4 linked regions of the Homo sapiens genome follow. The protein of the gene in region 1 interacts with the protein of each later gene in a pairwise test. Each region holds a gene or a part of one and is shown in the gene's direction. Other genes may lie near its edges. The genes, in order: TMEM218, CD300A, CLEC10A and LSMEM2.

The links.
Region 2: the proteins of TMEM218 (region 1) and CD300A interact in binary tests that used the Homo sapiens proteins (3 or more experiments, as listed by UniProt).
Region 3: the proteins of TMEM218 (region 1) and CLEC10A interact in binary tests that used the Homo sapiens proteins (3 or more experiments, as listed by UniProt).
Region 4: the proteins of TMEM218 (region 1) and LSMEM2 interact in binary tests that used the Homo sapiens proteins (3 or more experiments, as listed by UniProt).

The regions. Positions count from the first base shown.
Region 1 is NC_000011.10:125,094,618-125,101,655, reverse strand, and holds part of TMEM218 (transmembrane protein 218), read left to right. Parts: intron 1-134; coding exon of another isoform or gene 135-212; intron 213-352; coding exon 353-455; intron 456-3,915; coding exon 3,916-4,050; 3' UTR 4,051-7,038. UniProt on the Homo sapiens protein: May be involved in ciliary biogenesis or function.
Region 2 is NC_000017.11:74,469,599-74,476,636, forward strand, and holds part of CD300A (CMRF35-like molecule 8 isoform 1 precursor), read left to right. Parts: intron 1-3,937; coding exon 3,938-4,276; intron 4,277-4,933; coding exon 4,934-5,087; intron 5,088-7,038. UniProt on the Homo sapiens protein: Inhibitory receptor which may contribute to the down-regulation of cytolytic activity in natural killer (NK) cells, and to the down-regulation of mast cell degranulation.
Region 3 is NC_000017.11:7,074,035-7,077,287, reverse strand, and holds the end of CLEC10A (C-type lectin domain family 10 member A), read left to right. Parts: intron 1-300; coding exon 301-396; intron 397-483; coding exon 484-555; intron 556-1,135; coding exon of another isoform or gene 1,136-1,216; coding exon 1,217-1,303; coding exon of another isoform or gene 1,304-1,312; intron 1,313-1,402; coding exon 1,403-1,557; intron 1,558-1,821; coding exon 1,822-1,928; intron 1,929-2,065; coding exon 2,066-2,234; 3' UTR 2,235-2,751; downstream 2,752-3,253. UniProt on the Homo sapiens protein: C-type lectin receptor involved in recognition of N-acetylgalactosamine (GalNAc)-terminated glycans by myeloid antigen presenting cells (APCs).
Region 4 is NC_000003.12:50,282,052-50,288,617, forward strand, and holds the end of LSMEM2 (leucine-rich single-pass membrane protein 2), read left to right. Parts: intron 1-4,419; coding exon 4,420-4,533; intron 4,534-4,622; coding exon 4,623-4,811; intron 4,812-5,017; coding exon 5,018-5,151; 3' UTR 5,152-6,063; downstream 6,064-6,566. Other genes in the region: IFRD2 (interferon-related developmental regulator 2), read right to left, coding at 6,140-6,220, 6,358-6,453, 6,532-6,566.

The DNA.
Region 1 (7,038 bases):
GAGAGTTGTAGAATTTTCTAAAGTATTCTGTTCTAAAAACAACAGAAGTGGAGGTGGAGAGGGGATGCTTTGGTTTTTCTTGATTATGACTTTGGGCAGAAGTAAAAATAAAAACTACACATTTCCATTCTTAGGAATTGGGAATTACCAAGAATAAATGGGAATGCACCCAGCTGGTACCTGTCTAGGAAGAAGGACTTTGGGATGAAGAGGTTGTTGACAGCAGGCCTCTGGACATTGTTAAGGGACTGAAACATAGAATATTGGCTCCAAGGAAGAGACTGTCCAGACCTAACTGATCAAAGAAGAAATTATAGACAGTGCTTTTAATAATTTGTCTTTTTAACCCCAGGTTCTCTGTCATTTTTTTATTCTTCGGTGCTGTGATCATCACATCAGTTCTGTTGCTTTTCCCGCGAGCTGGTGAATTCCCAGCCCCAGAAGTGGAAGTTAAGGTAAAGCTGTTGCTTTCGTTTTGCCTCCTGAGCTGTGATTCTTATTTCTCTTGGTCTGCACATCCGTCCTGCCCTTGATGTTCCCTGACATCGGGTTGCCTGAGATGTCAGAATTGTAAAGTTCAACCAATGACGGGGAAAGTTCAGAGGGAGTTTTAAGTTCCCCTGCCCCTTCACTCAGGAAAAGAATCTTACTCTGAATTCCATCTACAACCCCACCAGGCAGTTATTTGCCTGATTTGGTCTCATCTTCAGTTTGCATCAAGTTGAAAACAGCCTGTTGGAAAGCCACCTCGTACCATGGGGACAGAAAAAAAAGAAAATGAAATAGGGATAGTCACAGGCCTGCACCCGAGATGAAGTGTTCCCATTCCTGGCAGCCTGGGCTCCTAACTGCAGATCCTGGGCTGAAATTGATGTGGTGCCCTGAGGGTGCTGAGGACATGCTTCTCCAACTGCATGTGCTAGAATTTTCCCAACAGTCTTCTGGGAGTTCTTTGGTCCTCATACCTGGGACCATACCTGCCAGCACCCATGTCTTTAAATGGATTTTTATCATCTCTCTCAGAATCCTTCTCTGGAGTTCTTTACCATGGCTTTACCATGCATGGCTGGTCTCAGACCCATGGGATCTTGACAATGACATTGACCTTTTCTGTCCCATTACTCCTTCTCACAGCTTTCCTCTCAACCTTCATTTTGATGTTTTAAGTGATAGTCATGAAAATAGCTAACATTCTTTAAGGGATTTCCGTGTGCCAGGTCCTGTGCCAAACACTTTGTTTGCACTGTCTCATTTAAACCTCAGGACAGCCCTAAGTAGTATGACATAGGTACCATTATTATCCCCATTTTATAGGTAAGAACACTGAGTCTGTCAGAGGTTAAGGTAACTTGCCCAAGGTCACATAGCAAGAGGCAGAACAGGGATTCAAGCTGAGGTCCGTCTTCAAAATCTTCAGTGTTGAGAACTTAACAGAATATTCAGGGCAGTCCCAGAGAGCTCATGGGTTAGCATTTTGACACTAGACAACAACAGTACACAAGATTATATGTGTAACTTTTGAACTAAAATTGACACTGTAGGATTAACTATGGCAAGAGGAAGGAAATTAAACTCCAAGGGAAATAGTACTTTACCACACACACTTAAGGAATTATTTCCATGGACACAAGTTTGTTGTCAGTATTTGGAAAACACTCTGGAGGTGTGGGTACCACATGTGTGAGCCAGGGGCAAATTCACACCTCACTTATCTTTTTTTTTTTTTTTTTTTTTGAGACAGTCTCGCTCTGTCGGCCAGGCTGGAGTGCAGTGGCATGATCTCGGCACACTGCAACCTCCGTCTCCCGGACTCAAGCAATTCTCCTGCCTCAGCCTCCCGAGTAGCTGAGATTATAGGCATGTGCCACCACACCCAGCTAATTTTTGTATTTTTGGTAGAGATAGGGTTTCACCATGTTGGCCAGGCTGGTCTCAAACTGCTGACCTCAGGTGATCCACTCGCCTCAGCCTCCCAAAGTGCTGGGATTACAGACGTGAGCCACCGCACCCAGCTGCTTTCCTTGTCTTTTAAGGGGGAGAGTGATGTGGGCTGCCACATTTCTGGATGCTGCAGATGTAAACATCGGGAGAAGGGCACAGAGCAAACACATTTTTGAAATCAATCCCTCGATTGTCTGTCATATGAGTTTCAGACCCAGGAGACAAGAATGGGGTTTGAGCAAAATACTTTTGTCAGCATGGCCGGCAGAATTGGAGTTCTCATTTTCAGGTTTTGAGAGCGGGCCTCTGCAGCAGCCTGGCTCAATGCTGTATCAATAATACATGGCCTGGGCCTTCTGCACCCAAGGCCTGCTAATTGGCTAATTAAAAAGTGAAACGTGTCGAACGAGCAAACATGTGGCCCGCAAGAGACTTGTTCAGTACCGGAGCCAAGGTCAAAGTTATGTTAAAGCTGTTTTATCAAACTGACCTTTGTTGTAAGTTGACTGTTGGGGTAATCTCTGGAGCAGCTGAGGTGTCTTTGGACCTCAGTGATCCTACTAGGGCTCGGGTCTGAGAGATACTTTGTGTATGGCCGCTGTGTTAGTTTTCTGTTGCTGCTGTAACAAATTATGTGAACTAATGGCTCCCAACACAGATGTATTATCTTACAGTTCTGTAGGTTAGAGTCCAACATCAGTCTCACTGGGCTAAAACCAAGGGGTTGGCAGGGCAGCATTCCTTTCCAGAAGTTCTAGGGGAGAATCCATTTCCTTATCCTTTCCAGCTTCTAGAGGCTGCTCGTATTCCTTGGCTGACAGCCCCCTTCCTCCATCTTCAGAGCCAGTGACATCACACCTCACTGATGCTTCCATCCTCACCTCTCTTGCTCTGACCCTCTCTCCCACCTCCCTATTCAACTTAGAAGGATCCTGTGATTAGATTGGGTCCACCTGGATTGGATAATCCAGATTAATACCCCTTGTTTTAAGGGCAGCTGATTGGCAATCTTAATTCTCCTTTAACATATAATCTAACATATTCACAATTTCTGGGGATTAGGATGTGGATATCTTTGGGCCATTATTCTGTCTGCCACAATTGCCTTTCAGCTGTTTTGGATTCTCCTAGGTACTGGGATTTCAAAGTTTCTGTGAAGTCAGTCAGCCACTTGGTTGGTGGTGTTGCTCCATTAGGTCTATAGATTAAATTGCTTTTTCCTGCCCAAATTTAAGCACCACCATTTGGATCTGGGGAGAGTGGAGCTCTGGAAGGGGTCAGTGGACAAGTGGGTAGAGCCAACACCAATTATAGGGTTTTGTCAGCAAAGACCAACATCTTTGGGGCCTCAAGTGTAAGGCCAGGCAGCCCACTGTCTGCTTTGGGGCAAGTTACCTATCCTTTTAGTGTTTTAGTATCTCAGGTAAATGGTCATTTTCCCTGCCCCGTGGCATGGGACTCTTCCGCTGATAGCTTTAAAGAGTCACCTTTCATTTTGAAAATGAACCCTCCTGAAATGGCAATGGATTGATGATTTTGGGGGTTGGGTCTTAGATACATGGGAGTTTATTATACTATTGCATTTTTATGTATGTTTAAAATTCTCCGTAATAAAATGTATTTTAGCAACAACAAAAATGAGCCTTTCTAGGACCATGCAAAAGCTTCTCATTAACTCTTTCAGGTAACAGATTTCAGAATATAAAAGAATTCATCCAGGGACTTCAAAGTGTTTACCAACATCCTAAATTGAGCCATTTGTTCCCTGTCCCTCATTAATCCCTTCTTGTGTCTCCTGCTCAGGGAGTTGAGGAAAAGATTCTTTTTTCTCATGTACAGAGGAGACTCAGGGCAGGATGTTACTGGAAGTTATACACATGAACTAACTCTTGGCCCACTCATCATGGAGTTCAGGTTAACCCAGCCAGGGTGTCTAACTGGTAGTAATTTCATTTTGATGTTTTCTTTCTCCAGATTGTGGATGACTTTTTCATTGGCCGCTATGTCCTGCTGGCTTTCCTTAGTGCCATCTTCCTTGGAGGCCTCTTCTTGGTTTTAATCCATTATGTTCTGGAGCCGATCTATGCCAAACCACTGCACTCCTACTGACCACTCTTCAGGAAAACGAAAACCTGTTCTCTCCTTCATTGTGATGACATTGATGAGCAGGAAGGCACTATTCAGAGCCTTGTTTTGACAGCCCTCATGCCTTAAGGTTAGAGGAGTATCTGTCCATCACTAAGACAAATCTCTGGAGTCCTGGCTTCCAGAAACAGGATTGCCAAATTGTCCCTGTGGGGCTAGATTCTTACCAGCTTAAGAAGGATATTGCTATCTTCTTAGTACCCGTACCTTAGGATTTCCAACTGTTTTGAAAGGGAAATAGTAACAGTGATCTGCTTAGAGTGGATTTTCACTCAAGTCCTTAGTAAGTGGATTTTGGGGAAAAAAGCACCTGGGCTTCTGGTTCTTTTTGATAATATATAAAATTATTCATTATGAGGTTGCAGTTGTTTGCAAAGGAGAGGCACTCAAATTTGAAAGGTTATTTTAATGTGATAATTTGGAAGACTTACTCAGATGTTGGTCATTGACCACTCTGTGCATATATTTCTGCAGAGCTCTGTGAAGGCAATGAGTGTCACTTCCCTCTGCTCTAATAAAGCAATAAATAATAGCTAAAGGGCTGACTTTCACTTCGAACTCTTGGCCACGGCTTTTTAATCAAGTTCTTTAGGTTTCCTTGGGATTAGAGGAAAGGTATGGAAATATTGTTTTTTGTTTTTTGTCTTGCCATGTATCTGTAGGTTTTTTTCTTCCATGATGTGGTGGGCTGTGTGTGCCTTATTTAATTACCATGAGTCCATTTTGGGGTGTCTTCACTTTTCATCTTTGTAGCCCTTTCTCCAAAGCTAGTGAGGAAGGTATATTCTCAACATCAGATATAACTCTATACCTGTCTGATCTCCCAGACCAAATGAAATTTGCATTAAATGGAGGGGCCCTGGTCAGGTTCCACTTTGGAAGTCTGATCCTGACTCCCTAGAGCCATTTGAAAAAGAATCTTCTGGCTTAAAATTAAGAACCAAGAAAACAAGTTGGAAAGAGATCACTGATGGAGTATGTGCTCTATGCCAATAGCACACTAATTCCTTTGAGGTTTAATTTATTTAATTTTTACAACGGTCTCATTTTTATCATCCCCACTTTAAAGTAGAAAAAATGGAAGCTTAAAGAGATCAGCTGACTTGCCCAACCTTCACCTAACAGCCAGTGTGCAAACCCAGGTGTGGTAGGCCCCAGGGCTTGTCTCAGAGAGAAAACACACTAGGGTTTGTGGAACTCTGATTGAGAGCTTCAGGTAGGTTAAGGCCACACTGTTCCTTCACTTTCTCTCCTCAATTCTGTTTTCAGGGTAGAGAAGTTACCCAGTCCTGCCACCCCACAGGCAACTAAGCTCTAAATTCCAAGAAGAGAGAACAGGTAACCACTGAGAGTCATGGGCTGGTGAGGGCCAGGTATAGTTATCCCTACATTGAACCATTTCCTTTATCTTACTTAGTTTGGAAAAACTTTGCAGATAAGGCTTTGTACAGAAAACTTCAAAGGAAATAGTTTCCTAATCTGGCCTAGGGCACACAGGTAAGAAAAGAAGAAACATCCTCTAAGCAGATTGAGGGAGAGAAAAAAGAATGCATAAGTCTTGAGGGAATTGAGACAAGCTGGGGGCCTCATGCTATTGTGAGTCTCCCTGCAGCCCAAGTGGAAGCTTGGCTCCTAACAAGCACAAGCTGCCAATTGTTACCTTCTTCTGAGAGCCTTGCTAAAAAAGTAACTCTGGGAAAACTCTTATAGGTTCCTGACCATGAATCCATCTTTTTTATTCCCCCCAAAAGTTATTCAACTATTAGATCAATGGATAATAACTATGAGGTTTTGGGTGACTATTTAGATGGAGGAAAGTGTATTAAGGTTGGAAACTAAATTCTATCCTTAATACTACTGTTTTCTAATTTTTGTTTTTTTGCCTGATGTAAATGAAAGGCATATATGTTAAAGATTGGCTTTAGGAAAAAAAAAAAAATACCCTGTGCAAAGTTTATTTCAGCTTGACTTGACCTACAGTCTACAGACCTGGAGTCTATAATTACCAGCTGTGGTGAAATGAATGATAGATTTCTTTCTACCTGCATACTCAATGCAGTTATGCAAAAAAAGCCCCGCAGGGTTGGGATAAGACGTAGAAGGCTGAGAGGGCTCAAAATGGATTTCACTGAGAGTTTGGCATGGGATAACCCTATAGTCAATGTCTGTTATGGTACCCTGTATGCTCATGGCCTTCTTGGAGACAGGGCTCAGAGGTCATTCCTTAAATACAGACAGAAGTCATCTTAGTGTTCAGAACCATTCTGTGATCAGTGGCCTTAGAACATGTTCCCTCTACTGTTCCCTACCCAGAGGGGATCCTGTGGCAGACTGGTGATCCCCACTGTTTAGAAGGTGGAGAGGGAGAGTAAATCTGGGTTTCTATATAAGAAAATAGGTTATTTCGTGGCGTCTTAAAATTGTATCCTGACAAAAGCTGAATTAGGAGGATACCACCCTATCCCCACAATGGAGATCACAATGGGTAATTTGTTAAGTTCCTTAAATTTTTCACTGATAAAAATGGAAGTAAAGCTACCATTCTTTGTGTACAATGTAAATTTAATGTAAAACTGCATCAGAATTACCATACCAATGTCCAGGGACTAGGGAGTACATAGCCATTCATTCTCGAATCCTGCCATTCATTCAGCATATATTGTGTGCCCGTAGGGTGTAAAGCACTAGTCCTGGTGGAGTAAGCCCATGGAAGAACTAGGCTGTAAGGTGTCTAGACTGTCTTCCTCACTGCTTCCTGGAAGGAGGGCATCCAATTTATTTTTAAATGTTTTTATTCTAACATAAAGCAATCCATTTTTTGTTCTGTTATTTAACAGAAACTTTAGTATCAACTCTATTTCATGGTTGTTGCAGTTGAAGTGTTTCTGGTTTATTTTTTGCTCAATGTGTAAAGAAACCTGCTGTGATTATTTTACAGATGAGAAACAGGCA
Region 2 (7,038 bases), on another chromosome or scaffold:
TGGATCACTTGAGGTCAGGAGTTTGAGACCAGCCTGGCCAACATGGTGAAACCCCGTGTCTCCTAAAAACACAAAATTAGCCAGGCATGGTAGTGTGCACCCTGTAGTCCCAGCCACTCGGGAGGCTGAGACATGAGAGTCACTTGAACCCAGGAGGCGGAGGTTGCAGTGAGCCGAGATCATGCCACTGAGCTCTGGCCTGGGCGACAAGAGCGAAACTCTGTCTCAAAAAAATGAAATAAAATAATTAATCATTTACCCCTTACAAAAAAATCCATTTATTAATGTATATACTAACTCCACTGTTTTTCTGTTTCTTAATTCACTGATTTCTGTGAATTCACCAGTTCGTGAAAGATGACCTGGTTCTTTCTGTGTTGTGTGTGGGTGTGTGTGTTCCTCTTCTGACCTCTTGAGTTGGACAATTCAGTCATTTACCTGAGAGTTAATGGGTCAAGATTCTGTGATCTTCAAGGAAAACGTTAAGACGACAGAGGAATATCCTGGTAGAGGACCCTGGCCCCAAGGTGGTCCCCAGTCTCCTGTTTATGATTAGAGGGGTTTGGGGTGGTGATTCAGGTTGGAAGAGAGAAAGCGCAGAAACACAAGCCTGGGAGCACTGGGGATCCATGTGATCGTTCCAGGTAAGTGGGGAAGTAAATGGAGGGTTTTCTGACACTTCGCAATCTCTAAATTATAATGACACCCTCACAGGTGGAACAGAGCTTTGGGGAGATGATTGGGTGACAGTTTTTTATCCAAGATTTCAGAGAAGAGAAGTTAATCAGGAGAGAGAGAAAGAGAGAGAGCTAGAGGGAGAGAGAGAGAGGGAGAAAGAAACTAAATCCGAAGGGAAGTCAGACACTGGAGGTAGGACGAGAGACAGGATTGGGTGCAGTGGGCAGAGGTGGTGGGGTCACTGAGGTCAGGAGAGAAGCCAAAACATGGACAAAGAAAGATGACGATTCGCAGCCCAGGAGAGGCAGGGAATCGGGTCAGGACAGGGAGCAGGAACAGTGTCTTGGGTGAAGGAGGGCTGGGAACTGACAGTTTTTATTTATTTTTTTTGAGATAGAGTCTCACTCTGTCGCCCAGGCTGGAGTGCAGTGGTGTGATCACAGCTCACTGCAACCTCCACCTCCTGGACTCAAGTGATCCTCCCGCCTCAGCCTCCTGAGTAGCTGGGAATACAGGCACGTGCCACCATGCCTGGCTAATTTTTTGTGTTTTTGGTAGAGATGGGGGTCTCACCACATTGCCCAGGCTGGCCTCAAATGCCTAAGGCTCAAGCAATCCTCCCACTTTGGCCTCCCAAAGTGCTAGGATTACAGGCATGAGCCACTGCACCTGGCCTATTTATTTATTTGAGTCAGGGTCTCACTCTGTCACCCAGGCTGAAGTGCAGTGATGCGATCATAGCTCACTGCAGCCACAACCTCCTGGGCTAAAATGATCCTCCCACCTCAGCCTCCTGAGTAGCTGGGACCACACGTGTGCACCAGCACACCTGGCTAATTTTTGTATTTTTTTGTAGAGATGGAATCTCACTATGTTGCCCAGGCTCCATTTACTTATTAAGTACTTAATATGTGTCAATTTTAGTGATTTGTGTTTTTCTAGAAAATAACTTTCATCTAAGTTTATGAATTTTATGTAGAGAATTTCTGCAAAATATCTTGACTCTTCATTCTTTCTTCATCTATGGTCCTTTTCTCTTGTCATGTCTTATTTAGTCAGCCCAGAGGTTATCTATTTTTATTAGCTGGAGTCATGTGAAACCCTGTTGTCTTGGTCAAAAAGTTTAATATCAGCCATTTCATGTGATTCAACCTAATGTTATTTACCAGGCATTTTATACCTGTGATCTCATTTAACACCCTCAAAGGCCATATGAGTCAGGGACAATTGTCACCACTCTATAGACAAGGTGTCTGAAGCTCAGAGAGGTTAACTAACTTGCCCCAGAACACACAGCTGATACGTAATAGGGTAGAGATGTAAACGCAGATGGTTCTGAGGATCTTTCTGCTTTGTCCTGGCAATTGCTGCTGAGAGCCTCAGGAAGCATCACACCTGTGACAAGCTTAGAAAGGCCTTCTCTGCAGGGGGATGTGTACATCCAGGCGTGGAGAGGTTTGGGTGGGACTCTGGGAGAGGCACAGAGGAGCTTATCTTTGGGCAGCCGTGGGCTGGGTGTGGAGCTAGTGGGGTCCAGGAGAAGCTTGCACTGAAGTTTTTGTAGAGGGCCTACAGGTGCAAGGCACCTGTAGACGTTGAAGGTATAAGAAGGAGACCCCTACCAAAGTCTCATGTGTGAGGAGATTTAGCATCTGAAACAGTAAGTAAAATTAAAGAGTTCTGGCCAGGCGCAGTAGCTCATGCCTGTAATCCCAGCACTTTGGGAGGCCGAGGCAGGTGGATCACCTGAGGTCAGGAGTTCGAGACCAGCCAGGCCAACATGGTGAAACCCTGTCTCTACTAAAAACACAAAAATTATCCGGGTGTGGTGGACGCCTGTAATCCTAGCTACTCGGTAGGCTGAGGCAGGAGAATCGCTTGAACCCGGGAGGCAGAGGTTGCAATGAGCCGAGATCCCGCCACTGCACTCCAGCCTGGGCAACAGAGCAAGACTCCATCTCAAAAAAAAAAAAAAATCAAAGAGTTCTAACCCAAGGAAAGAAGAGCAAGCCCCCATCCCCACCATCCTTGAACAATATGGGGCCTAATCACAGAATTACAAGGGCATTGAGACACTGCACACACAACTGCCCAGCAGGCCTGTGCCCATCTGCCTGGGGCAGGGGCCATGTGTCCTCTGCTTGGCAGCCAACACTAGCTTCGAGCCATCACCTTACTCTCCTTGCTTTGCATCTGATAATTATTTGGGAAAATGTCAGACATAATTTTCAAGGAAGTTCATTTATTTCCGAGATTTAAGTCTAGGAGAGCTGGGCAAACTAAGGTAAGACACAGGATGAAAGTTTTCGTCAGCAAGCCTTCTGCGTTTGTGACTCTTTTTTTTTTTTTTTGAGACAGAGTCTCACCCTGTCACTCAGGCTGGAGTGCAGTGGTGCCATCTCAGCTCAACATAACCTCCGCCTCCAGGGTTGAAGCGATTCTTGTGCCTCAGCCTCCCCAGTAGCTGCAATTACAGGCGCATGCCACCACGCCCAGCTAATTTTTGTATTTTTAGTAGAGACAGGGTTTCACCATGTCGGCCAGGCTAGTCTCGAACTCCTGGCCTCAAGTGATCCACCCACCTTAGCCTCCCAAAGTGCTGGGATTACAGGCATAACCCACTGTACCCAGCCAGTATTCTTGTCAAAATGGCTTGACAACCCTATTACTGCCCGGGTTTGCCCCTTGGTGGGACCAGATCAGTGTGTGGGCCGGTCTTCCTCTTGCAGGGTTGCCCAGGGCTGGGGTGGCCCTCCCGGGAGTGCAGGTGCTTAGGGGTGAGTTCTCATGCTCCTGGCAGGTTTGGAAGCAGGAGGCCCCTGGTGGGTGAGAGGGGTGGGAAGGGTAAGGGAAAGGAGGCAGGGGGCTGGAGAAAGGGGCTACTATGAGCAAAATCTTGAGGGTGGTAGAGCAGAAAAGAGAATACTCAAGCTGTGATCTGGCTGATGGGGCTGATATGAGGTGAAGGAGTCAGGGGCTGAGGGCTGGGGGTGCTGATGTGGAGTCGGGGAATCTTTGGAGGAGGTGACTCCAGGGCACCCAGCCTGAGCTCTTCCGGTCTCCATGGAAAGCCTCTGCCCCATTCCCACCTGTGTGCGGAGGTAGCCTCTCATCCTCAGTCCCCGCTCCTGGGTGGACAAGGCCTCTCTGCCTGCCGCTGCCTCCTCCACACCCCCAGGGTCCATGCGGCCCTGACCCCAGGGCACCCCTGACCAGGCTCATCTGAGGAGGAGCTGGGACTCTGGCTTGTGTTTTCCAGGATGTTTTGCTCTGAGCAAATGCAGGACCGTGGCGGGCCCCGTGGGGGGATCCCTGAGTGTGCAGTGTCCCTATGAGAAGGAACACAGGACCCTCAACAAATACTGGTGCAGACCACCACAGATTTTCCTATGTGACAAGATTGTGGAGACCAAAGGGTCAGCAGGAAAAAGGAACGGCCGAGTGTCCATCAGGGACAGTCCTGCAAACCTCAGCTTCACAGTGACCCTGGAGAATCTCACAGAGGAGGATGCAGGCACCTACTGGTGTGGGGTGGATACACCATGGCTCCGAGACTTTCATGATCCCGTTGTCGAGGTTGAGGTGTCCGTGTTCCCGGGTGAGCCCCTCCTTCCCTCAGCGCCTAAATAGGCTCAGGTTGGAATTGTTGGGGCAGGAATCAGATCAGAGACGTGAAGCAGACAGTGTGTGTGTGTGTGTGCGTAAGAGAGAGAGAGGTGGGGGCCAGGGGAACACAGTCAGGGGGTCTCTCCTGGAGCAGCTGACATGTCTGCCCAGTATTGAAGAAGGGAAGGGTCCAGTGACAGGGAGGCTGAGAGAGCGTTGCCTGTGAAGGAGCCAGGAGCGCACCTGTGGCTCAGCCCCAACGGAAGTGCAGCTGAGTGGGGGAGGGGTGGGGCTGAACAGAGAGGCTGGGGGGCCAGATGGGAAGCTGCTGTCCTCAGGGGGAGCCTTACCACATGACAGGTCAGATTTGCAGTGTAGACAGACTCCTCTGCAGCATGGAGTTTCGCAGGAGCACCTGGACCCTCATCAGCAGGATGGAAAATCAGGACCACTGGGAGTGGCACCCGTGTCCTGTTCAGAAATGCCCAGTTGGCCCAGGAGGGTCCTGGAGAGACTCTAGCCCCAGGGTCCTGCATCCTGCCCCCTTCCTTAGTGGGCAGTTTGTGTGAAATCAAACCAAAAAGGCATCCTGAGTGGTGGGAGAGCCAGAGGACAGCTCCCTGGGTCTGACTTGTGGTTTTGCCACCAGCATCAACGTCAATGACACCTGCAAGTATCACTGCGGCCAAGACCTCAACAATCACAACTGCATTTCCACCTGTATCATCCACTACCCTGTTTGCAGTGGGTGCCACCCACAGTGCCAGCATCCAGGAGGAAACTGAGGAGGTGGTGAACTCACAGTAAGCACCCTAGCCCCTGAGACATGGAGGGGGCCCTGTGCTAAGAGGAGGAGCCCAGGGCGGGGACCTTGGCCATGTGGGCCAGCTGGAGGTGTGCATCGCTCCCTTTGCCCCAGGCCCAGGTTGGAAGCCATAGTCTGAACACCCCGGCTTGGACCTGCCCTTGGCTTTGGAAGGGGGCTCAGGTAGGGGGGAAGTTGGGGGGCAGATGGAAGGAAAGTGATAGTTACTGACAGCTGGTAACATCCTACGAGGCCCGTGTTAGATGCTTCACATGAGTATTCTCACTTGCCTTTCACTGCAGCCCTGTACTGTTGTCATTCCGTGTATTAGTCTGTTTTCGCACCGTTGATAAAGACATACCCGAGACTGGATAAATTATAATGAGAAAGAGGTTTTAATGTACTCACAGTTCCACATGGCTGAGGAGGCCTCACAATCAAGGCAGAAGGCAAAAGGCATGTCTTACATGGCAGCAGGCAAGACAGAGAATGAGAACCAAGCAAAAGGGGTTTCCTCTTATAAAGCCATCAGACCTCGTGAGACTTATTCACTACCACAAGAACAGTATGGAGCAAACCACCCCCATGATTCAGTTATCTCCCACTGGGTCCCTCCCACAACACGTGGGAATTATATGGGAGCTACAATTCAAGATGAGATTTGGGTGGGGACCCAGCCAACCCACATCAATCCCCATTTTACAGATGAGTAAACTGAGACTCAGCGAGGTGAAGCAATTTGCCCAGTCAAGTAGCTACAAGAGGCTAAGGCTAAGCTTCCAATTCTGGTTTATGTGACTCCAGAGCCTTGAGTTCTCCTCTCTAAATAGTGGTTCTTAACCTTTTTCGGGTTCACCAACCCCACATAGAATCTGACATCTATGGACACTCTCCCCAGAAAAACACATGCAGTCACAAACCTTTTCTGGGATTCACGGACTCCCTATTCTAGCACAAAACCCCACAATTCCATCCTGGCACTATCCACCCAGAGTTAGTGCAGACCCCACAGGTGAAGAGCTTCCACATCTAAATCAGATCCCACAAGACCGCCCTGATTTAGATGCCAGTCGAACTTTGGGGATCCCCAGGCCACCACACTTCTGACCAACTGGATGCAAATTTGGGGGTTCCCAGGACCCCCCCAGGTTCAATAATTTGTTAGACTCAGAACTCTGGAAAGCATTATACTTACAATTACAGTTTTATCATAAGGATAAAGGATAAAGATTAGGACCAGCCAATGCAGAGACACATAGGACAAGGCTTGGGAGGATTCCCAAACAGTTTCTGTGCCCTCTCCAGGTGGAATCAGGGAGCATCACCTGCACCCTCCCTGCGGCACCTCAATATATTTATCAACCAGGAAGCTCCTCCAAGCTTTGGTGTCCAGAGTTTTTATTGGGGTTTCATTACATAGGCATGATGTGATTGAACTGTCTCCACCTCCAGTCCCTCTTTGGGAGGTTGGGCTGGCTCAGGGCTCCAAATCTCTAATTACGTAGTTGGTCTTTCTGGTGACCAGCCCCATCCTATTGTCTCATCTCTTACCAAAGTCCAGGTGTGATTCATGAACAACAAAGACACTCCTAATTTTTGGGACATTCCAAGGATTTAGAGCCTCCCTCCTAAGAGCTAGGGACAAAGGCCAGCCAGATTCTTTACTGGACAACATCCATAAACCCCTCCACAGGCTTCTGCCAACATATAAGACAAGGCAAAATTCAGGCTTGAACATGCCACTTCCAGAAGTTTAGCCTGTAGATACACATAGGTGGCAGCGCTGAGTTCTGTGGGGCCTGAAGGTTGTGCAGTTTGCGGGGTGGGTTGGTGGGTGGGTAATCTAAGAAAAAGATGAGAAAATTATGAATGCAAACGTAGGCATGAAGGAAAGGGCCCAAGCAATGGAGGGACCTGAAGCTGGGCTGCATCAGCCTCCTGGTCAATCT
Region 3 (3,253 bases), on another chromosome or scaffold:
TGGGGGGGCACTGATGGAGTGATTGATGGGGACGGTGGTGGGGGTAGTGATGGAGAGAGTTGACGGACCCATAGTCAGGATGGCTGCTGGCTTTGTCACTGAGTAGTTGGGTTATGTACTCAAATTACTTCACCTCTCTGAGGCTTAGTTTCCTCATCGGCAATATTGAACAATAATAGTGCCTGCCCCACTGGGTTGCCGTGAGGACCCAATAAGGCAATGCTTATGGAGGGCCCTGCTCGGTGCTGGTACAGAGGACCTGATGAATCCCAGCACTGACCTTCCCATCCACCTGTTTAGATTCCAAATTTCAGAGGGACCTGGTGACCCTGAGAACAGATTTTAGCAACTTCACCTCAAACACTGTGGCGGAGATCCAGGCACTGACTTCCCAGGGTGAGTCTGGTTTGGATGGGGCTCTGGGCTGGGGCCAGGCCAGGGAGGAGGAAGTTGACCCCTAAGCCAAGTCTCCGTGTCCTCCAGGCAGCAGCTTGGAAGAAACGATAGCATCTCTGAAAGCTGAGGTGGAGGGTTTCAAGCAGGAACGGCAGGCAGGTGAGAGACCCTCCGAGTATGGGTGTGGGGGGCTAGGCGCTCAGACACAGTGGAGGTGGGAACAGACTCCTGGTGCTGAACTGCCCTCCCCTTCAGCCAGCAGCTTGAAAGGCAGCATGCAGGCCGGGCGCAGTGGTTCACGCCTGTAATCCCAGCAGTTTGGGAGGCCGAGGCGGGTGGATCACGAGGTCAGGAGTTCGAGAGCAGCCTGATCGACATGGTGAAACCCCGTCTCTACTAAAAAAAATACAAAAAATAGCTGGGTGTGGTGGTGGGCGCCTGTAATCTCAGCTACTAGGGAGGCTGAGGCAGGAGAATTGCTTGAACACGGGAGGCGGAGGTAGCCGTGAGCCGAGATCGCGCCATTGCACTCCAGCCTGGGCAGCAAGAGTGAAACTCCGTCTCAAAAAAAAAAAAAAAAAAAAGAAAGAAAGAAAGAAAGGCAGCATGCTTTCTCTGGAGAGCAGGCTGGAGAAACAGGGGCAGAGGAATCCAAAGCAGATTTGATGGCTGTACCTGGCCATGATGTAGGGGGTGGGTGGGGGCGGGAAGGAACATTCCCTGGCTTGGCCCTGTGCAGGGGTATCTGAGCTCCAGGAACACACTACGCAGAAGGCACACCTAGGCCACTGTCCCCACTGCCCATCTGTGTGTGTCCCAGTTCATTCTGAAATGCTCCTGCGAGTCCAGCAGCTGGTGCAAGACCTGAAGAAACTGACCTGCCAGGTGGCTACTCTCAACAACAATGGTGAGGAAGGTATGGGGAGTACCTGGCCCTACTTTTCTGCCCATGGCCCACTGGGCAGAGCCTCAGCCTCTCCACCCTATCCTATTTCTCCCCAATCAGCCTCCACTGAAGGGACCTGCTGCCCTGTCAACTGGGTGGAGCACCAAGACAGCTGCTACTGGTTCTCTCACTCTGGGATGTCCTGGGCCGAGGCTGAGAAGTACTGCCAGCTGAAGAACGCCCACCTGGTGGTCATCAACTCCAGGGAGGAGCAGGTGAGGGCTTCTGGTACTCAGTTCCTAAGACATGTCCCATTTAGGGAAATGGTTCTTAAGCTTGGCCGCACATTGGAATCATCTGGGAGCTTCCAGAATGACTGTCATCTGTGCCACACCCTCAGAGATTTAATAGGCCTGAGCATCCAGAGAAACATCTCCAAACTCCTCAGTTGATTTAACGAAGAGCTAAAGTTGAGAATCACTAGTTTAAGGAGTTGGCTGGGATGGGAAGAAGTCACCACTGCCCTTCTGTCACCGCAGAATTTTGTCCAGAAATATCTAGGCTCCGCATACACCTGGATGGGCCTCAGTGACCCTGAAGGAGCCTGGAAGTGGGTGGATGGAACAGACTATGCGACCGGCTTCCAGTGAGTGCACCCTGGCTTTCTGTGCCAATGTCCTCCGTCAGCGTTTCCCCCAGGGATCTGACTGGCAGCCTCTCCTCCCCTGAACTGAATTCTACTCCATCTACCCTTCCTAGCTTGCTGTTGTCTTTTCCTCTCAGGAACTGGAAGCCAGGCCAGCCAGACGACTGGCAGGGGCACGGGCTGGGTGGAGGCGAGGACTGTGCTCACTTCCATCCAGACGGCAGGTGGAATGACGACGTCTGCCAGAGGCCCTACCACTGGGTCTGCGAGGCTGGCCTGGGTCAGACCAGCCAGGAGAGTCACTGAGCTGCCTTTGGTGGGACCACCCGGCCACAGAAATGGCGGTGGGAGGAGGACTCTTCTCACGACCTCCTCGCAAGACCGCTCTGGGAGAGAAATAAGCACTGGGAGATTGGAAGCACTGCTAACATTTTGAATTTTTTTCTCTTTAATTTTAAAAAGATGGTATAGTGTTCTTAAGCTTTTATTTTTTTTCCAACTTTTGAAAGTCAACTTCATGAAGGTATAATTTTTACATAATAAAAATGCACTCATTTAAAGAGTAGAGATGACTTTGACAAATATGCATGCCTAGGTGACTACCACTCCGATCGCAATAGATAACATTGCCATCGCCCCCACCAGTCCCCTCATGCCTCTGGGCAGTCCAACCACTTCCCTGTTTCCAGGCCAGTGATCTACTTCTTTTTCACTATTTATTGGCCTTGCCTCTTCTAGAGCTTCTAGAACTTCATATAAGTGAAATCATACACTCTCGTGTATATACTTCATATAAGTGAATATATACTCTCGTGAGAACTTACGTACTTTGTGTTGCTTGATTTTTGGCAATCTAAAAATGGCAGAGTGGAGAAGCCAGGTGAAGCCTTCGAAAGTCCTATGTGATTGAGAAAATAGCATTTTCTTCTCATATAGATTTGAGTTCAAATCTTTTCTGTCACTTAAAGATGGTATAAACTTAGGGTGATTAGGAAAAGCCATTGTTTAATTTCTCTGAAGATCCCAGAGTTGTTGGGAGATGTAGATAAGATCCCCAGGTGTATTGGTTAGCAATTGGTGTGTAACAAACCACCTCAAAGCTCAGGGCTTATACAGTAAGCATTTATTATAGCTCATGAGGCTATAGGTCTGGTCTGGCCAGGTTTGGGTCATCTTGGCTGGGCTTGTTTATGCGTCCGTGGTCAGCTGGTGGGTTGGCTTGGGGTTGGCTGGTCTAGGGTAGCCTTGCTCCCATGTCTCATATTTGGCTGGCTCTGGGCTGGGACAATGGGGATGACTGGGCCACATTAGCTTAGCCTGGCCTT
Region 4 (6,566 bases), on another chromosome or scaffold:
CCATGTTGACCAGGCTGATCTTGAACTCCTGACCTCGTGATCCGCCCACCTCAGCCTCCCAAAGTGCTGGGATTACAGGTGTGAGCCACCATGCCCGGCCCTAATCTTTGATTTTTTTGTAGAGATGGGGTCTCCCTACGTTGCCCTGGCTGGTTTCAAACTCTTAGACTCAAATGATCCTCCTGCCTTGGCCTCCCAAAGTGCTGGGATTACAGGCATGAGCCACAGTGCCCGGCCCAAAGAGAGAATTTAATATGACCTTCAACCCACCACCCAGACATAATGACTGGCAGCACTTGCTTGTTTTTGTTGTACTTGCTTTTGAGCACGTCAAGAGGCAGTTTCAAGTAAATCATGGAGGTTGAGTTACTGTCCTGAGAATGACAGTCCCAGAGTGCAAGGCCACCCTTGCTCCTATCTGGAGGTGTCCCCTCAATGCTCTTCCCTACTGTTATCAGCTTCCAGGTGGGTATCTGGAGCTCTTGGCATCTGGACCAGGATTTTTAGACATCAAGTTAAAGAACAACTAGAAGAAAATATAATTAAATATTGGCCAGGTACGGTGGCTCATGCCTGTAAACCCAGCACTTTGGGAGGACAAGATGGGCAGATGACTTGAGGTCAGGAGTTCAAGACCAGCGTGGCCAAAATGGTGAAACCCCAGCTGTACTAAAAATGCAAAAATTAGCTGGGCATGGTGGCACGTGCCTGTAATCCCAGCTACTGGGGAGACGAGGCAGGAAAATCACTTGAACCCAGGAGGCAGAAGTTGCAGTGAGCTGAGATCATGCCACTGTACTCCAGTCTGGGTGACACAGTAAGACTCTGTCTCAAAAAAAACAGACAAACAAAAGGCCAGGCATGGTGGCTCATGCCTGTAATCCCAGCACTTTGGGAGGCTGAGGTGAGCAGATCACGAGGTCAAGAGATCGAGACCATCCTGGCCAACATGGTGAAACCCCGTCTCTACTAAAAATACAAAAATTAGCCAGGCGTGGTGGCACGTGCCTGTAGTTCCAGCCACTCGGGAGGCTAAGGCAGGAGAATCGGTTGAACCTGGGAGGCGGAGGTTGCAGTGAGCTGAGATTGCGCCACTGCACTCCAGCATGGCAAGAGAGGGAGATTCTGTCTCAAAAACAAACAAACAAACGAAACACCGGCTGGGTGCGATGGCTCACGCCTATAATCCCAGCACTTTGGGAGGCTGAGGCGGGTGGATTACCTGAGGTCAGGAGTTCAAGACCAGCCTGGCCAAGAAGGTGAAACCCCATCTTTATCAAAAAATACAAAAATTGGCCGGGCGCGGTGGTTCACACCTGTAATCCCAGAACTTTGGGAGGCTGAGGCAGACGGATCACAAGGTTAGGAGATCGAGACTATCCTGGCTAACATGGTGAAACCCCATCTCTACTAAAAATACAAAAAATTAGCCGGGCATGGCAGCGGACGCCTGTAGTCCCAGCTACTTGGGAGGCTGAGGCAGGAGAATGGCACGAACCTGGGAGGCGGAGCTTGCAGTGAGCCGAGATCGTGCCACTGCACTCCAGCCTGGGCGGCAGAGCGAGACTCCATCTCAAAAAAAAAAAAAAAAAAAAAAATTTGCAGGGTGTGGTGGTGCACACCTGTAGTGCTAGCTACTAAGGAGGGTGAGGTAGGAGAAACCCTTGAACCCGGGAGGCGGAGGTTGCAGTGAGCCCAGATCGTGCCACTGCACTCCAGCCAGGGCAACAGAGACTCTGTCTCAAACAAACAAACAAAAAGCAAAAACTTCAATGAGTGTGAAAGTACATAATTAAAATCAAAAGAAAAGTACACAGACCCAAGTGACTAAATGGGCAGAGGCTTCAAATTGATAATTAAGAAGCCACACACAGCTGGGCATGGTGGCTTGCGCCTATAATCCCAGCACTTTGGGAGGCCAAGGCGGGTGGATCACTTGAGGTCAGGAGTTTGAGACCAGCCTGGCCAACATGGCAAAACCTGGTCTCTACTAAAAATACAAAAATTAGCCAGGCATGGTGGCAGGTGCCTGTAGTCCCAGCTACTTGGGAGGCTGAAGCACGAGAATTGCTTGAACCTGGGAGGTGGAGGTTGCAGTGAGCTGAGATCGCACCACTGCACTCCAGCCTGGGCAACACAGCAAGACTGTCTCAAAAAAAAAAAAAAAAAAAAAAGCGCCACACACGTATTAGTCACACTCCCTAGGCTAAGAAACCCAATAAAATAAGAAAGACCATTTCTCATCTCTCAAGTTAGCAAATATATGTGTGCACGTGTGCATGTAAATATAATTTTTTTCCTATGGGGATGCCTAATGGTGGCAATATTATACCCTGCGGGGGAGCTGTGGACAGTGCTTCTGGAGGACAGTTTGGTAATAGCTTTAAAAAAAATCAGGCCGGGCATGGTGGCTCACACCTGTAATCCCAGCATTTTGAGAGGCCAAGCAGGATGGATCTCTTGAGACCAGGAGCTCGAGACCAGCCTGGGCAACATAGTAAAACCCTGTCTCTACAAAAAATACAAAAAAAATTAACTGGGCATGGTAGTGCATGCCTGTAGTCCCAGCTACTGGGAAGGCTGATGCAGGAGGATCACCTGAGCCCAGGAGGTGGAGGCTGCGGTGAACTGTGATCACTCCACTGAACTCCAGCCTGGGTGAAAGAGTAAGAATCTGTCTCAAAAACAAAACAAAAATCTCAGGCCAGGCGCGATGGCTCACGCCTGTAATCCCAGCACTTTGGGAGTCTGAGGCGGGCGGATCACTTGAGGTCAGGAGTTTGAGACCAGCCTAGCCAGCATGGTGAAACCTGGTTTCTACTGAAAATACAAAAATTAGCAGGGCGTGGTGGCACACATCTGTAATCCCAGCTACTTGGGAGGCTGAAACAGGAGAATCACTTGAACCCAGGAGGTGGAGGTTGCAATGAGCCAAGATTGCGCCACTGCACTCCAGCCTGGGCAACAGAGCAAGACTCTGTCTCAAAAACAAAAAAACAGGCCGGGCACGGTGGCTCACGCCTGTAAATCCCAGCACTTTGGGAGGCCGAGGTGGGTGGATCACAAGGTCAGGGGTTCAAGACTAGCCTGGCCAAGATGGTGAAACCCCATCTCCACTAAAAATATAAAAAGTAGCTGGGTGTGGTGGAAGGCGCCTGTAATCCCAGCTACTCAGGAGGCTGAGGCAGAGAACTGATTGAACCCGGGAGGCAGAGGTTGCAGTGAGCCGAGATCTTGCCATTGCACTCCAGCCTGGGCGACAGAGGGAGACTCCATCTTAAAAAAACCAAACCAAAACAAAAAACGACCAAATGCAGTGGCTCATGCCTGTAAATGCCAGGACTTTGGAAGGCCGAGGCGGGCAGATCACTTGAGGTCAGGAGTTCCAGACCAGCCTGGCCAACATGGTGAATCCTCATCTCTACCAAAAATACAAAAATTAGCTGGGCGTGGTGGCACACGCCTGTAATCCCAGCTACTCAGGAGGCTGATGCAGGAGAATCGCTTGAACCCAGGAGGTGGAAGGTGCAGTGAGGCGAGATCACGACATAGCACTCCAGCCTGGGCAATACAGGGAGACTCCATCTCAAAAAACAAACAAACAAACAAAAATCCCTGCTCTTGGATCCAGTAATTCCACTTCTGGGAATTAAACTATCAGGAAATTGGGAAAAAACCTTCATATTCAACGGTGGATGTCCTGGGGGTTAATTTCAAAAGGGAACTGCAGCGGTGAGCCAAGATCGCGCCATTGCGCTCCAGCCTGGGCAACAAGAGCGAAACTCCGTCTCAAAAAAAAAAGGGGGGCGGGGACTGCAAACAACCTAGATGCCCAGGCAGCCTCAGGGAGATGTGTGAAGGGAGAGACCTCAGAGGCATGTGCAACAGTATAACAAAGAAGGGTCTCCCCAACAGTAAATGTTGAATGAAAACAGCAGGGTTCACACATGTACAGCAGAGTCACACTGAGTATGTTAACAAACACAGAACCAAGGCCAGGAGGGAAAGGCACCAGAGTGGCTACAATAGGGCTTTCTGACCAGAAGATGCCAGGCATTGGGTCTGCAGGGAGAACTGACAAAAGAGGCAGGACTGAATTCCATTTGCTGCAGGTTTAGCATTCAAGGCTGATAAACTGCTAGAAATAAGCAGGCAGAGGAATGCCTGAGTGAGTCCCTGGGGTGCTTGGAAGGAAACAAATCAAATGTACCTGTTGCTCCTGTATACAGAATAAGCCTGTAAGGGTCTGGGATCATCCTGGATCCAAATCAAGGGTAATTCCTGAGTCAGTTTTAGGGGATTTGGAACCAAATGTCCCACTATCCCTATCATCCGCAAGTCCTTGCTGCCTGAAGCCACCTGGTAGAAGGAAGGGGGTTGACCCACCACTGGCTAAATCAGCCTGCGCTGCCCCTGCAGACTCCGTGGCGCCAATGATGCCCAGCCAGAGGAGCAGGGGGCCATTGGCCCCCAACCACGTGCATGAGGTATGCCTGCACCAGGTGGAGTCCATCAGCGACCTACATAGTGGAGGTGAGTGGGGACAGTGGGGTGGATGATGTGCTGGGGGAGGGGACGAAAGCAGGTGCACCCACCACCCTCCCAATGTCCCATCCACCCAGCAGGCACACTGCGCCCCTATCTAACTGAAGAGGCACGACCGTGGGATGAGCTGCTGGGCGTTTTGCCGCCGTCACTGTGTGCCCAGGCTGGCTGCAGCCCTGTGTACAGACGAGGAGGGTTCCTGCTGCTGCTCGCGCTGCTGGTGCTCACTTGCCTAGTGCTCGCACTCCTGGCTGTCTACCTGAGCGGTATGGACGCATAGGGTGCTAGTAGGAATGGAAAGCAAGGCAGTGGGGACTGGGAGGCCCTTCTGTGCAGCTGGAAGGAGTAACTGCAGATGCTGCAGCAGTGAAGGATGGGGCGGGAGGCCCGTGGCTGCCCCTGGTCCTGGGCTGGGTCTGCAGGGGTCACGGGGTGGCACATGGTCTGATGATCCCCCACTTCCCATTCACAGTGCTGCAGAGTGAATCCCTGCGCATCCTGGCACACACGCTCCGCACGCAGGAGGAGACACTACTCAAACTCCGCTTGGCCAGCCTCAGCCAGCTTCGGAGGCTCAACTCCAGTGAGGCCCAAGCACCCAGCTGAGATGCCATTTGGATCTGGGGCCTGGGGGTGTGTGTTGGTGGGGGAATAAAGTGGCTATGGGCAGGTCTCTCCTTCCCTACTGCTGGCTGCCACATCTACACTATTTCCTTGGTGAGATTTTTGTACAAGAACCTGTTGTTAACTTAATGGCTGCCTCCCTCTCCTGATCTCTTCAAGCCAGGCCTAGCCAAGCCTCTGGTGCCAAAGCCTCGCTTTGGGTGGCCCAAGGTCAGGGGAAGGGGCACCAGCCTCCTGGCTCCTCCTGTGGCCTGTCAACACTCTCTGGCCACCCCAGATGGCAGGTTCTGAAGTCTAGAAATAGCTGCCCCCATAGCAATCACCCAAACTCTGCCAGGGCTCCCAGTGAGGGTCCAGCCTCAGCTCTTAAAGACAGGCTGGGCTCTGAGTAGGGGGAGAGGCACCACCTGGGGAAGACTGCCTTGGAGGGCAAAGGTGACATCGTGGAAGACCAGTTGGGCCCAAGCCTGGGATAGTAGATGGGGAGGGAGAACAGAAAAATACCCAGGGGTTAAGACCACAGAAGGCTGACCGTTCTGTTTAATTATCTGTAATAATCCTTAAAAATCAGCACACAAATCCATTCCAGGTAGCTTTGCCACCCCACCTGCTGTGGTGGCATTTGTCCAGATGCCACCACCCCCCTAAGAGTGGGTCATCCTGGGGGAGCAAGGCCTGAGAAAGGAAAGGAAGGGAAAGGCCCCCTAGTGCCTGCCCCACAGCCCTGAGGAAGGCACATATTTAGCCTGGCCTGAGACAGGACAGGAAGGGGCCACAGGGCTGAGTGCAGGGACAAAGGGGTCAGGGTCCCAAGTGTCCGGGCCCCCAGCTACCCACCCCATGTCTGTTTTTGGTTTTGTCATTAAAAAAAATAAAGTGACAAATACTGGTGGAGACCAGTTGTTGCACTGTCTTCTGTTAAAAATACGGACCAAGGGCATAGAAAGTCTCCTCTTCAGCAGGTCCTGCTTCACAGGATGTCTGCCCGCTTGTCCCGCACACGGCTTCGAGCCTTGGTCCGGGCTTTGAAGGCAGCAGCATTGTACAGGTGCTAGAGTGGGGACAGAGAGTGACACCCTGGGGAGCTGGGAAGGGAAAGGGCTGGGGGTCCTCTTCCGGCCTCTACAGAATTCCAGGCCTCCAGGAAATGGGAATAGGGGGAAGAGAAAGGTGCCCAAGGGTGCAAACCTTCTCAAAGCGTGGAACCTTGCAGGCCTTCAGGGCAGTGGCATCCAGCAACAGCACAGGGCCCAGGCCAAAGATGTCACGGAGTAGCTCATTGTTCTGGGGGGCAGAGGGCAGTGAGCTCAGGCCAGACTGAAGCAACCACACCAGATGTCCCCTCCCTGTCCGTCCCCGCACCTGGAGGTGGTGGTGCATGCCCGAACCCAGCACTT